Homo sapiens: one gene and its partner. The protein of the gene in region 2 interacts with the protein of the main gene of each other region in a pairwise test. Each region holds a gene or a part of one and is shown on either strand. Other genes may lie near its edges.

Region 1 (7,589 bases), on a different chromosome or scaffold from region 2:
GATTCTCCTGCCTCAGCCTCCCAAGTAGCTGGGATTACAGGTGCCCACCACCACGCCCAGCTAATTTTTGTATTTTTAGTAGAGATGGGGTTTCACCATGTTGGCCAGGCTGGTCTCAAACTCCTGACCTCAAGTGATCCGTGCACCTCAGCCTCCCAAAGTGCTGGGATTATAGGCATGCGCTTTGCAATCTCAGCTCACTGCAACCTCCACCTCCCGGGTTCAAGCAATTCTCCTGCTTCAGCCTCCCGAGTTGCTGGGACTACAGGCGCGTGCCACCACGCCCAGCTAATTTTTGTATTTTTAGTAGAGATGGGGTTTCACCATGTTGGCCAGGATGGTCTCGATCTCTTGACCTCATGATCCACCCACTTCAGCCTCCCAAAGTGCTGGGATTACAGGCATGAGCCACCGCACCCAGCTGGCAACCACTGTTAACATTTTCTTGGGTATCCTCTTTTTTTTTTTTTTTTTTTGAGACAGTCTCACTCTGTTGCCCAGGTTGGAGTGAAACAACACGATCTCAGCTCACTGCAACCTCTGCCTCCCAAGTTCAAGCAATTCTCCTGCCTCAGCAGGAGTAGCTGGGATTACAGGCGCCTGCTGCCATGACCAGCTAATTTTTGTATTTTTAGTTTAGACGAGGTTTCACCATGTTGGCTAGGCTGGTCTCGAACTCCTGACCTCAGGTGATCCACCTCAGCCTCCCAAAGTACTGGGAGTACAGGATGAGCCACCACTCCCGGCCTTGTGTATCCTTTTATAGATATTCTGGCATCTTTATTATGCTGATAAAACACTATACCAACAAAACGCAAAATCTGCATAAAATACTATATTGATTCATTTCATTTCATGTTGCGCCTAAGCTGTGCCATGCCCTGTGCTGGATTCACATATAATACATTGTCTAGAGCCCCAAGGGTGTACACGTTGTGTGCGTATGTGTGTTAAGAGGGGATGGGGATGCTTATACCTGTAATCCCAGCACTTGGGAGGCTGAGTGGGGTGGATCACTTGAGATTAGGAGTTCGAGACCAGCATGGCCAACAGGGCGAAACCCAGTCTCTATTAAAAATATAAAAAGCAGCTGGGCATGGTGGCCCACACTTTACAAAAACTTCTGGAAATGTCATAGTTAATCCTCTGGGAAACTTTGAGAGGTAGGAATTACTGAAAATACAAAATTAGCCGGACGTGGTGTAGTCCCAACTACTCAGGAGGCTGAGGCACAAGAATCCCTTGAAACTGGGAGGCAGGGTTGCAGTGAGCTGAGATCAGGCCACCGCACTCCAGTCTGGGTGACAGAGCAAGACTCCCTCTCACAGAAAAAAAAAAGGGGGGGGGGTGGGGGCAACAGGTACCAAGGGACCATAATTAGTACAAGGTAAAATATAAGTGTGGGAGTGTCACGTAGTGGTTAGCACTTGTTCTCAGAAGTCAGATTTGGTTTACAGTCCCAATTATGCGACTTGCTCTCAGCATGACCCCATGTAATTCACTGAACCTCTGTAAGTCTGTTTTTCCATCTATCAGACCAGATTAATAATAGTACCTAAGGCCAGGTGCGGTGGCTTACGCCTGTAATCCCAGCACTTTGGGAGGCCAAGGCGGATGGATCATAAGGTCAGGAGTTCAAGACCATCCTGGCTAACACAGTGAAACCCCATCTCTACAAAAAATATAAAAAATTAGCCAGGCGTGGTGGTGGGCGCCTGTAGTCCAGCTACTTGGGAGGCTAGGGCAGGAGAATGGTGTAAACCTTGGAGGTGGAGCTTGCAGTGAGCCGAGATCGCGCCACTGCACTCCAGCCTGGGCGACAGAGCAAGACTCCAAACCAAAAAAAAAATAAAAATAAATAAATAATAGTACCTACTACTTCACTGAGTGTTGAAAGGAATAAAGCCAAAGTATACAAAATGCCTGCCACATATTAAACACTCAATAAATGTCTGCTAAAAAAATAATTTTTTAGGCCAAGCACGGTGGCTGACGCCTGTAATCCCGAGCACTTTAGGAGGCCAAGGCGGAAGGACTGCTTGAGCCCAGAAGTTCGAGACCAACCTGGGCAACATGGTGAAACCTCGCTTCTACAGAAAAATACAAAAATTAGCCGGGCATCGTGGCACGTGTCTGTAATCCCAGCTACTTGGAGGGCTGAGGCAGAGGTTGCAGTGAGTTGTGATCCCATCACTGCACTCCAGTCTGGGTGACAGAGCAAGACCCTGTCTCAAAACAAATCAATCTTTAGCTCTCCATAAATCTTGGTCATTATCCTTCAGGTCTGCATTCCATTACTGTAAATTCATAAAACTCTAAAAGGCAGGAAGGGTGGGGTGGGTGGATGACTTCTGTAATCCCAGCACTTTGGGAGACCGAGAAGGGCGGATGACTTGATCCAACTCCAAAAGGAGTTGGAGACCTTCCTGGCCAACATGGTGAAACCTCGCCTCTACTAAAAAAATACAAAAAATTAGCCAGGCGTAGAGGCGCCTCTACTAAAAAAATACAAAAAATTAGCCAGGCATAGAGGCATGCTTGTAATCTCAGCTACTGGGGAGGCTGAGGCAGGAGAATTGTTTGAACCCAGGAGGCGGAGATTGCAGTGAGCCACGATTGCGCCATTGCACTCCAGCCTGCGTGACAAGAGCAAGATTCCCTCTTTAAAAACAAAAAACAAAAAACAAAAAAACTCTAAAGCCAGACTCTTTTTTTTGAGACGGAGTCTCACTCTTTTACCCAGGATGGAGTGCAGTGACTCAGTCTCGGCTCACTGCAACTTCTCCTTCCCGGGTTCAAGTGATTCTTCTGTCTCAGCCTCCTGAGTAGTTGGGACTACAGGCGCCTGCCAACACACCCGGCTAATTTTTGTATTTTTAGTAGAGACGGGGTTTCACCATATTGGTCAAGCTGGTCTCGAACTCCTTACCTCAGGTGATCCACCCACCTCGGCCTCCCAAATTGTTGGGATTACAGACGTGAGCCACCGTGCCCGGCCCAGACTTCTTTTTTAAAAAACCAAACTTGGTGGCAAAACATCCAAAGTGAGGCTATTCATTTGACTTGGTACGAATGTTCATACACTTTGATGCAGAAATGTCAATAGGTTTGGCTACCCGGCGCTGCCCCACTCCTTGCTTGGTGTGTCATTCCAAAGTCTGAAATACATCTGGCCCCACTGGTTTCCAGTTAATATTGATCCTATATTTTTGCTAGGGAAAAAAGTTTTTGTTTTTGTTTTGAGACGGAGTCTTGCTCTGTCGCCCAGGCTGGAGTGCAGTGGCACGATCTCCGCCCACTGCAAGCTCCGCCTCCCGGGTTCACGCCATTCTCCTGCCTCAGCCTTCCGAGTAGCTGGGACTACAGGCGCCCGCCACCACGCCCGGCTAATTTTTTGTATTTTTAGTAGAGACGGGGTTTCACAGTGTTAGCCAGGATGGTCTTGATCTCCTGACCTAGTGATCCGCCCGCCTCAGCCTCCCAAAGTGCTGGGATTACAGGCATGAGCCACCGCGCCCGGCAAGGAAAAACAGTTTTTTAGGAAGGCCCCTGTCATTCTTAGTCCATAGGAATTTTTTTTTTTTTTTTTGAGACGGAGTCTGGCTCTGTCGCCCAGGCTGGAGTGCAGTGGCGTGATCTCAACTCACTGCAAACTCCGCCTCCCGGGTTCAAGTGATCCACCTGCCTAAGCCTCCTGAGTAGCTGGGACTACAGGTGCACGCCACCACGCCCGGCTAATTTTTGTATTTTTAATAGAGGCGGGGTTTCACCATGTTAGGCTGGTCTCGAACTCCTAACCTCGTGATTCGCCCACCTCGGCCTCCCAAAGTGCTGGGATTACAGGCGTGAGCCACCGAGCCTGGCAGATTATTTTTCACTTTAAACATTTTAGGAAAGACCCAAAGAATCCTCAGGGTTTACACTCACAGTACCTCGATTCCTGTATATTCCAAGATTTGTGGGAAGAAAAAGTACTAAGCTTGGAGTCAGGAGGCCTGATGTTTCTTCCTTTCACCAAGCTTCTCTAGTTCTGTTTCATTATCCCCATGGCAACAACTAGCAACAGTGACTGGCATTTAGTAGGCCCTTCATAAATATATGTTGAATAAACTCTAAAAGAGGTAGCTTTTCATTCCAAGTTGAGTTCTCTCTTGGTCCTGTTGCAGGCAAGGGCAATGGTACCCTGCCCTAGGTGCACAAGTGTGCAGGAGGGATCAATCGCAGAGCCTTTCCGAGAGAAGGGGCCCAAAGCGAGTCAACTTCTCTACTGAGCTTCCCATGAGGATGCTGGATCCCCAATCCTAACCATGCAGACGTCTGAGGGTCGCCGCCATTAACGGGAATGATATGGCCCTTCCTCCCCCACTCCCTCCTCTCTTCTCCCCTTTCAACACTTGAATTGGGCTCTCCGCTACTTCCGCACAGCGCAGGACCCACACGAGCCCAGAACCATCACGGCCTGCTAGTTCCCACCCCTCCCGTCCTGGAGGACCGTAGGTGGACGCTCTTGCAGAGCGCCTCTCGCTGGTTGGGGCGGGGGTGGGCGGAGCCAGCACCGTCTGGGCTGTGGAAGCGGAGGGGGTGGGGACACTCTGGCCCGGTTCTCGGTGGTGCGGGAGCGGGCGGGAGCAGCGGCCGCTCTGGTCGGCGGACGTGCTGCCGAGTAGTCCCGGAAGCGAAGCAGCGATGGCGGAGAGTCCGACTGAGGAGGCGGCAACGGCGGGCGCCGGGGCGGCGGGCCCCGGGGCGAGCAGCGTTGCTGGTGTTGTTGGCGTTAGCGGCAGCGGCGGCGGGTTCGGGCCGCCTTTCCTGCCGGATGTGTGGGCGGCGGCGGCGGCAGCGGGCGGGGCCGGGGGCCCGGGGAGCGGCCTGGCTCCGCTGCCCGGGCTCCCGCCCTCAGCCGCTGCCCACGGGGCCGCGCTGCTTAGCCACTGGGACCCCACGCTCAGCTCCGACTGGGACGGCGAGCGCACCGCGCCGCAGTGTCTACTCCGGATCAAGCGGTGAGCCGGGGTTTTTCCTCCCCCAGCCCCGAGCTCCGGGGCTCGACCTTCCCCGCCCCCCACCCTCTCCCACTACAACTCACCCCCCACCCACTGCGCTGCCCTCGCGGCGGCCCACCTCCACGGCCCAAATCTTGCCAGCTCCGGGCGTCGGGATCCAACTCCCTTCTCCCCCCACCCTCAGACCCGCAAGCACCAACCCCCGCCTCGTGTGCCCAGATCCGACCCCGCCCCTCGACAACCTCCCGTGAGCCCTCCGTCTCCATTCCGGCCACCCTCCCCCACACCTCCCACCTCCGGGTGGAAACCCGACCCTTTAGCGCTTCAGTAACGCCCCCTCCCGCCTTCGGCGCCGCCCCTATTTCCCCTTCCCCACCCCAACCTTGCTAGATGCTGCCCGCAGGCCCCACCCATCGGTCCCCTCTCTTCTCCTCTGGAGCCCCGTTCCTAACACAGACGAACTCAGCTTCCTTTGCCATGCCTCTGACTCGAGCCAACCTTTCTTTTTATCCTCCGTTTTTCTCAGATTCCCTCCACACAGTCTTTTCCCAGGTCTAGATCGCTTCCCTCGCCCCAATCTTTCCTTGAACCCCTTTTCCAGTGTCCCAAAGCTGTCCACTCTTACGCCTCTTCCAGAAACACAGGCTACCTCCCCCCAATTCCCCAGTGCCACTCTGGATTGTAATATCCCACTCAGGAGCTTCTTTCTTGTAATTTCCCTCCCCCCACCCCCCACCCTCCCCGGGTCGTCTGTTTTACTTCTATGAAGCAAATATACTCATCAAATATAGGAACAAAGGCCTAAGTCCTTTCTGTGCTTATTTCTTGGGTGACTGATCTTAGATCCTATCATTTAGTAGATGATGTTTTCCAGAAGCACATAGAATAGTACCTATCGCATAAGAAAAGGGCAGTGCTCTTTAGCTATTAATCCTGAAACCTGTTTGACTTCTCCCCATGCCCCCATCACAAGCATCTTCGTTTAGTTCTTATTCCCCATGTTCCACGTCCTTTCAGATGTCTCTGTGTCTACTTTTCAAGGTTGTAATAAAAATTAATATAATGTGTGTAAAGTACCTGGCACAGTGCCTGACACAGGAGGTCAACTGTGGAGGGATTGCCACCTCTAACTGAAACTCAGCACTCAACTCTTTTCCTCCTCCAGCCATTTCAGTCATCCAATTCTGACATACCTTTGAGTTTGGCCAATGCTTTCCTCTGCTTTGTCGCCTATTTGCCCTTTTTATGTCCCTACCCACCCTAGCAAGTCCCTAGGCTTTTCGCCACCTAGAATGTTCTTTAGCCCCTTGCTCTCAACTGATCCATTCCAGTTGGTGAGATATGAGTCAGAAATCTTATCTCCTATGGAAGTCCACATGTCATCTTCCAGATGGGAGATTCTTAGCAATTTCTGAGGATCCCTCCCCAGCCTGAAGAGATCTCTACCCTGAGACACCCCTGGGCAAGAAGGCCACCATGATAGTCTTACTCTCTGCTGGCTGGCTTGCTTCATACAATCCCCTTACCAATAAAGGTCCACTGTATAGTTTATAGAATTAGTTTTTTAGTGGAGTTGATGATGCCTTTCCAGTTACTAAAAAATCTTCATTTAGCATTCAGTCGTAGTACCTGGGAATCATGGAGGTGGGGAGTGAATGAATTGCCATGTGGGAGGAAGTGAGAGTAAGTGGAAAGTGGCTTTTCCAGGCTGACATTTGATGCCATTGGGATCTCTGATTTTTTTCCTCTCTCCCTCCCCTCCCCCTGAGGAAACAATGCCCTTTTGATAATAATTTGCTCTCTGCCTGCCTGACAAGTACTCAGCTGAGATTTCTCAGCCAACAAGACAGTACAAACACTTGCGGTACCAAGCACCACTTTCTCAAACCCTGGCCTCATTGAGGTGATAACAACTGTCCTGCTCAAGGGATTCCCCCTTTCCCCCTCTTCCTCACTCCTTCCCCCACCTCCTCTTGGTGTTATACAGGGATATCATGTCCATTTATAAGGAGCCTCCTCCAGGAATGTTCGTTGTACCTGATACTGTTGACATGACTAAGGTATGTAACTTGATGGGGGTTTGGGGGGTTTTGGGAAATTGGGGGCCATAAGGTTGCAAAAGCCTAAAAGAGATTATTCAGCTCACCTCTCCGATTACACAGATGAAGAAATCAAGACCCCAGGAGAGTAAGTGGCTTGTCCAAGGTCACATAGTGAGGTGGAGCAGCACTTTGAAGAGGTGTCTGTTATTAGTGTACCCCATAGGTACTGATTGGCTTGGAAAATCCCAGTTCATGTCTGTTGTCGCAGCTTGACTATTTATAGGGCATTCTTTCACTCTCAAAAATGCTCCTGTTTGGATAATAAATTATATGGTCACCCTATCCATTGTACTACCCAGCTCTTCCCCCATCCCGTTACTCTTGACATTAACTATGCTATGGTACTATAAATCAGATGTAGGGAAGGTTGGGAATAGGGCAAGCTTGACTGAAGTGTTTGTGGTTAAAGGACTTTGCTCAGGATCCTGTCCTTACTGGTTGCGTTTAAGTATCCCTTCCACCCCAAAGACTATACCTCTCTTGT
Region 2 (6,390 bases):
TCTGAAGCTTTTTTTCTCCCTTAAAGGTGTTAAAACAATGAAACCTTTGAGTGCATCCACGGCAATCTTTGTATTTCTTTAGAAACTGCAGCTGTCTTAACAGTTTGAGTCAGTCTGTTCCTTTAAAAAGACCAGCAAGTACAAATGATACTAGCAATCCCATGATAAAGAAGCTATCAATTATAATAATCCCCTTACAATCAATCATGGATGTGGCTTGTCAGAGCGGATTTTTTCTCTGTCTCCTTGTACTTTCTGATTCAATTGAGAATAAGCGTCAAAATTCCACAAAAATGGGACTATGTTACATTTCCTCTAAGCAAAATAAAAGGAAAGGAAGAGAACGTAATCTCCTAATTGAAATAAAAAGATAAACCAAAAAAGAATATGAGTCGGTGGGGGGGGGGCGGTGGGAGGCTCATTCCTGAGAATAACAAATGCTACTCTTGAATTTGTTGGTTCAAGTAATACAGTAAAACAGAAGAGACGGCTCCACTTCACTTCAATGCTTGGAAGCTGAAAAAAGTACATATATTTTTTCCCCCTGAAATCCATGGACAAAAGTGGGACCAGGCCCTGCATATAGCTCTTTAAAGTCACAGACATATATAAGGTGGCACTTTCATGCCCTCTCAAAGACTTTCCTCACACTCACATAAGCAGGATTAACAGATAAGGAAATGATGCAGTCAGCGTGTGCCTTAAGTGGAAGGAAACCAACTACAAACTGGCGGATATTCAGTATCTCCTGAATGAGAAAGGGAAAACTGAGGAAGGTCATTCAGTCTCTCTCTCTCACAGTTTTAAGTTGAATACATTTGGTGGAGGAGGATGGGTGAAGAGGTAAGGAAATGGCACCTTCCTTTTATCTTAGAAATTGTTTTCAGGTAACGGACAAAAAGAAGCCGTGCTTAACATCCAGCCCCACATGCCCCTTTAAACAAGGCTTCATTATACATAGGAGAGATGGAGCGAGGCAGAAAATCCACAGCAGTTGTGCCTCTTTCAGGCGCACCCTGTGCTGCTACATTGAAGGCTCTTTCCTCTTACCCACAGTGACAGTGTGTCATTTAATCGGGATGCCAAGAGATCATTTTCATACAAGGCCAGCAGATGTAATTTTCTTTGATGCATGAATAGTTCATCATTTTGCTACTAGATGACAAGGTGATCACAGGGTGACTTTAGAATGCAAGTTCACTGTTTGGTATTTTGAGTTCTCAAAATGAAAAAAAGATTTATCAAATATAAATATCTTTAAAAAGTAACAAAAGTGCTACATATGTGATCAAGGAAAAAAATTCCATTAGTTACTGCCGCTTAAAGTAGATTAAACTTTACAAATATTACCACATCCATTATCAATATGGCTTCCAATTATTAAATAAATTGCCTGTAGCAATACAGCTTTTCACACCTCTCCAAGGACAGAGTAAAGAGAACAGCAAAGCAGTCCCATCGTGTTCTCATACAGCCACAATGTGAGTAGGAAACGTCCCCTGCTTTTCTCTGCTCCTATCTGGGCAAGTGTCTGCATCTGTGATAAGCAGCACAACCCCACTATGAAGTCCTCTAGTGACCTCTCAGAGTGAGGGGGCTTCCGTTTAATGGATACAAACACTGCAAGTTTTTTCACTCATTTTTGACCTTAGCTCCATCCTTGAAAGACTTTTTTGGTAGCAGGGAAAGGGGACACTGACAGGAGGCAAAGCAACTTCCACGATGACCTCCAAAACTTTTCCAGGCAGGCACTGCTAACTGTGCCGTGGAATGTACAGTGGTTCTGAAAACTGGACTTAGCATCCATTAGACATTCAGCTCATATTTTTTTTTTCCAATGCTCTCAAGCTGGGTTTTTTTTTTTTTTTTTTTTAATGACTTTTGGTTTTTGTCTTTGTTTTTAATCATGGTCCCAAAGGCAGAAGGCAGTATTTTATCTACTAAGTCACACAGCTTGTGAGAGGAAAGGATGTCTGTGTCAGGCATGTTAACTTCAAACAAAATCTGAGATCGGCTTTTTCCATTGACATTCTTAGCACAGCACCCAAAGAAGTATAATCTAGCCACAGTGTGGCTATAATGAGGCACGGCTTATTGCAGCTGGAAATCAATTATCCTCACGCTGAGGTGGGGATTCTAGTGTTCCTTTGACTCTGTGGATACTCCCCAAATGGTGTCTGTCATTCCTGTGCCACGACCTCAGCTTGCATCCTATCAGTCTTGGGGAAGGAAAAGGGAGTACAGACTAGTGTTACAAGAATCTAAAGGTACCCAAGATTTTACACGTAGTCTAATATTTGAGAACTGAGGGCTATCTAAATACCTGGAAGCACTTTCTTGGAATGCTAAGACGGAGCAGCAAGATTTTCTAGCCTCGGGGGCTGGGAGAGGGAAGTTTGGTTGGTTGGTTGGTTATTATTTACTGGGAGTTAATACTGAGAGAGTATATGCAAAGGCTGAGGGCACCATGCCATCTTCACAGAACAAGACCCTAACAGCTACCTGACATACAAGAAACTGCAAGTTATACTGTAAGAACACATGTTAAGGACCGAGGAAAGTCTGCTAAGGTGCTACGTCTAAACTAAGTTAACTTGTCATGTTTAACCTCCCTGATCAGTCATCATCCAGGGCCTCTGTCTTGATTTCGTTGGCTCCTTGTCGGGCCAATGCCAAGATAGTGTGGTTGACTGCTGCCATTTCCACAGCTAATGAGATGGGGTCTTGGTGGTCACTATGGCTCGTACTGTCATCCTAGATGTGCAGAAATAAGAAATGTTATTAGTGGATTGGAAGAATTCTTTAGTCACAGAGAGACATGCTGGGGCAAGGGGAGGCAGAACATTCGTGGGAGGAAACTGGGGGAGGGGCTCATGATAAAATAGAGGTAAATTGTATTTAAGTAGACACTGAATGGATATAGGTCCAAAGATTTTCAGTTGATAATCTTATGATTCAACAAGTAAAAAGCACAAAAAATGTTTTTCATCACTGAGAATTCTATTCATTCTATTAATAAGATTGCTGGTGATGATGATCAAACCTGCAGTGATTGATATAAAACCAACAATTTGGATCTTTCTGTTTGTAACAAATATAGCACTAATCACTGAAGGCCATACTAGTGAGCTATTAAATTCCAGATTGCTGCTCTTACAAATAGATTATTAGAATTCATGGTCCCTCTCTGAACTGAGAAAACTAGACAGAACTTACAATTACATCTTACAGATAAAAAATGCATTTTTGTAAAAAAAGAAAAAAAGAATTCTCCATTACAACAGGACACATGTCACTGCCAGAAACGGCTACGGGAGAAAGGGGAGGAAGGTGTCGAGCTCTCCTGCTGCAGGCAGCTGTGCAAGGGGAGCGGCAGGCGTCTTACCTAGAACTAGTGTGAAGCTGTCCTCCCCGCGCAGCTCAATGTGTTAAACAATAAAGCTGTGAAGGAAGCTGGCATTGCAGGATGTACGTCAGGCACTGAAGATGGTGTTACAAATAAGGGGTATGTTTCTCACCTGTCATCTTCAGGGGAACTCCGTATCAAAGAGCTTTGGAAAGGGTAAGTCCCTTAAGGAAAAAAACAAACAAAACATGGAATGTGCTGCCCTTAGGGCATCTGTAAAAAAAGATGGAAATGATCCATCTATGTGGGTAGACTGAAAAGAGGAATGTTTCCGAACAGAAAGACTTACAGAATATTCTCTTGGGGCTATTAACTAGAGTCCTAAATGGGAAAAAATGGTAGTTCTTCAGAAGTGTGGACATCATTGTTTCCTTCTGATGTTCACAGATTAGTTTTTAGAATTTACAAAGGGATCAGCACACACTTGCATGCATTCTAGGTGTGTGGTAAACAGAGGCTATTAAAGAACACATTGGACTATATGAGCTGGCTGAGGAGCAAGAAAAAAGCACAGACCCCAGAAAAATGAGCAGAAGTTTTCTTGCTGTGGTCTAGGGGAAGGTACCATGCGTTCTCTGCATATTCCAAATGGAAATTTAAATCCTATCAAAATTTTAATGAAATCTGTCAACATCTATGTGGGGGTCGAGGAGGGACTCCCACAGTCTTAGTTACTGAATTACTCCACGCAGTGGCTACAATTAAATACATTTTCCCCAAAAGCAATGCAGAATAAATCAGGGCGAGGTGAAGAGTCATGCAGGTATTGCACTTATGAGAGGATGCATGTGTCAGTGTGCCAGAGACTCTGGAAGAACCACTCCTTTGGGCAGGAGGGTTCCCACTGCAGTGGGGCCAGAGTGAGTGGGGCCTTCCATCGTGCCCTGCGTCGGTACGTGTTTAGGCATGGGGTCCAGCTGCCCCTAGTATTTCTCAAACACTGAGTGTGTGTCGTGAATGGTGTAACTTGCTTGTTTGGATCAGATCCTCCTCTCTTCTTCTACCTTCTCTGCTTCTCTGCCTCCCTCTGAACTTCTTCCCTCCTCCTCCTCCCCATTGCGTACTTGCCAAGTATCCTGTTGTATGACAATAAATCCATGTGGGTGAATAACGATCTCTCACAAATTCAACAGGACAACTGAATCTTACCACATTCCTTTCAAATTACATGAAATCTAACTAGACACAGGAGCAGAGTGGAGGGACAGTGACTGTTTCCCCTCCCCCACCCCATCAGCCACACCCAAGGAACTAAGCTGTCCCACTATACCCCCTGCTCAGGCACCAAGAACCTCGCCCAGCTGCGCAGGGGCTCACCTGCTCAGAGTAGTCATTCCCGTCGACATCATCACTGTTTGAGTGGCCTCCTGGACTCTGCACATCTATCCCATGACTCTCCAGGATTGCTGCTTCTTCGAAAAAAGCAAATAGATCCCTAAATTATCTGTTACCTTATCACAATGGCTGAAACACTGAATGAATTTTTGTGCTAAGGAAATTAATTAGAATGTAATTAAACAAGAACCTGTATTTCTCTACATTTGTTTCTTTTAGACTGTAAGATGGATGAAATTCAACTGCATGTAGGTCAGGGGAGGCACACATTTGCCATTCTGGGGTCTCTGCTGCTGTGCATGTTAGGTGCTTCATAAATACTTGCTAACTAACTAAACAGTCTTCCTATCTTGGGGTTCTATAGAGCATATGAGAACTGTACTGATGAATAAAAAGTGTATTTACAAAGGAAGGAAATGAAATGCATTCTATGCCCATACCACGCTCAATGCGCCCGATCTCGTCTGATCTTGGAAGCTAAGCAGGGTCAGGCCTGGTTAGTACTTGGATGGAAGAAATGAAATGCAATTTTAGAAGCTAAAAACCAACATCCCACCTGACTCACCAACTTAAATTTCTTATTCTTATTTATTACTGTTACAGTTTTGAATGGGAACAAATCCTTTATTTCTTCCTTTTTCAGTTGTATTCGTAGTTCCCTCTAGGGCACTTTTGGCATTTTTGTTTTCTCTGTTCAGCTTTATTGAAATATAATTAATAAAAATTGTATATATTTATGGTGTACAAGGTGATGTTTTGATATGTGTATATATACATAAATGATTACATCAAGAATCCATATTTCTTAAATGCTCTTTATCTCTGCCTTTTGCTGCGTTCCTTGTCTATTAAGTCTCTTTCATTCCAAACCATTAATCAATTGTTTCCTAATATTTAAGTCATAGTCCAGTAATAATGAAGAAATTCTGGGTATTACATTCCCTTTCTCAAGATCTTACAAGTATCTTTCAAATGTACCACAGGAGTAATCAATTGCTCAGGGGCCATGTCTAATTCTATATTCTAGAACTTTAAGAAGAATGAGTTTTATAAATAATAATGTCATTACCATTACACTACAAATAGTGTAAATAATACTAACTGTGGTTTATTAAAAACACAATGAAAGACATTAGGGCAACTTTTGTTAGGCTTAGAAGTTAGGATCCGGCACGGTGGCTCACACCTGTAATCCCAGCATTTTGGGAGGCCGAGGCGGACGGATCACCTGAGGTCGGGAGTTCGAGACCAGCCTGACCAACATAGAGACACCCCATCTCTACTAAAAATACAAAATTAGCCAGGTGTGGTGGCACATGCCTATAATCCCAGCTACTCGGGAGGCTGAGGCAGGAGAACCACTTGAACCCAGGAGGCAGAGGTTGCAGTCAGCCAACATCGCGCCACTGCACTCCAGCCTGGGCAACAAGAGTGAAACTCCGTCTCAAAAAAAAAAAAAAAAAAAAGAGAAGTTAGGATCCTTTAGACTTGCAGTTTCTAAACTGAAGTTAATCTTAATATAAACATGACGTTCACAACTGCTGCACAAGAGAAAAGCAGCCTCACTGATACATTACCAATATTGGCTCTCCTCTTGATCTCCTTCCTTCTGTTAGCAAACCAATTATATACTTTCAGGGAGGTAACTC

Evidence for each region.
Region 1: the proteins of HMBOX1 (region 2) and UBE2Z interact in binary tests that used the Homo sapiens proteins (3 or more experiments, as listed by UniProt).

What each region holds. Positions count from the first base shown.
Region 1 is NC_000017.11:48,903,818-48,911,406, forward strand, and holds the start of UBE2Z (ubiquitin-conjugating enzyme E2 Z), read left to right. Parts: upstream 1-4,589; 5' UTR 4,590-4,686; coding exon 4,687-5,003; intron 5,004-5,121; exon of another isoform or gene 5,122-5,166; intron 5,167-6,990; coding exon 6,991-7,063; intron 7,064-7,589. UniProt on the Homo sapiens protein: Catalyzes the covalent attachment of ubiquitin to other proteins. Specific substrate for UBA6, not charged with ubiquitin by UBE1. May be involved in apoptosis regulation.
Region 2 is NC_000008.11:29,047,382-29,053,771, reverse strand, and holds the end of HMBOX1 (homeobox-containing protein 1), read right to left. Parts: coding exon 6,319-6,390; intron 4,819-6,318; coding exon 4,724-4,818; intron 4,483-4,723; coding exon of another isoform or gene 4,387-4,482; exon of another isoform or gene 4,378-4,386; intron 3,571-4,377; coding exon of another isoform or gene 3,544-3,570; exon of another isoform or gene 3,386-3,543; intron 2,755-3,385; coding exon 2,617-2,754; 3' UTR 510-2,616; downstream 1-509. UniProt on the Homo sapiens protein: Binds directly to 5'-TTAGGG-3' repeats in telomeric DNA. Associates with the telomerase complex at sites of active telomere processing and positively regulates telomere elongation.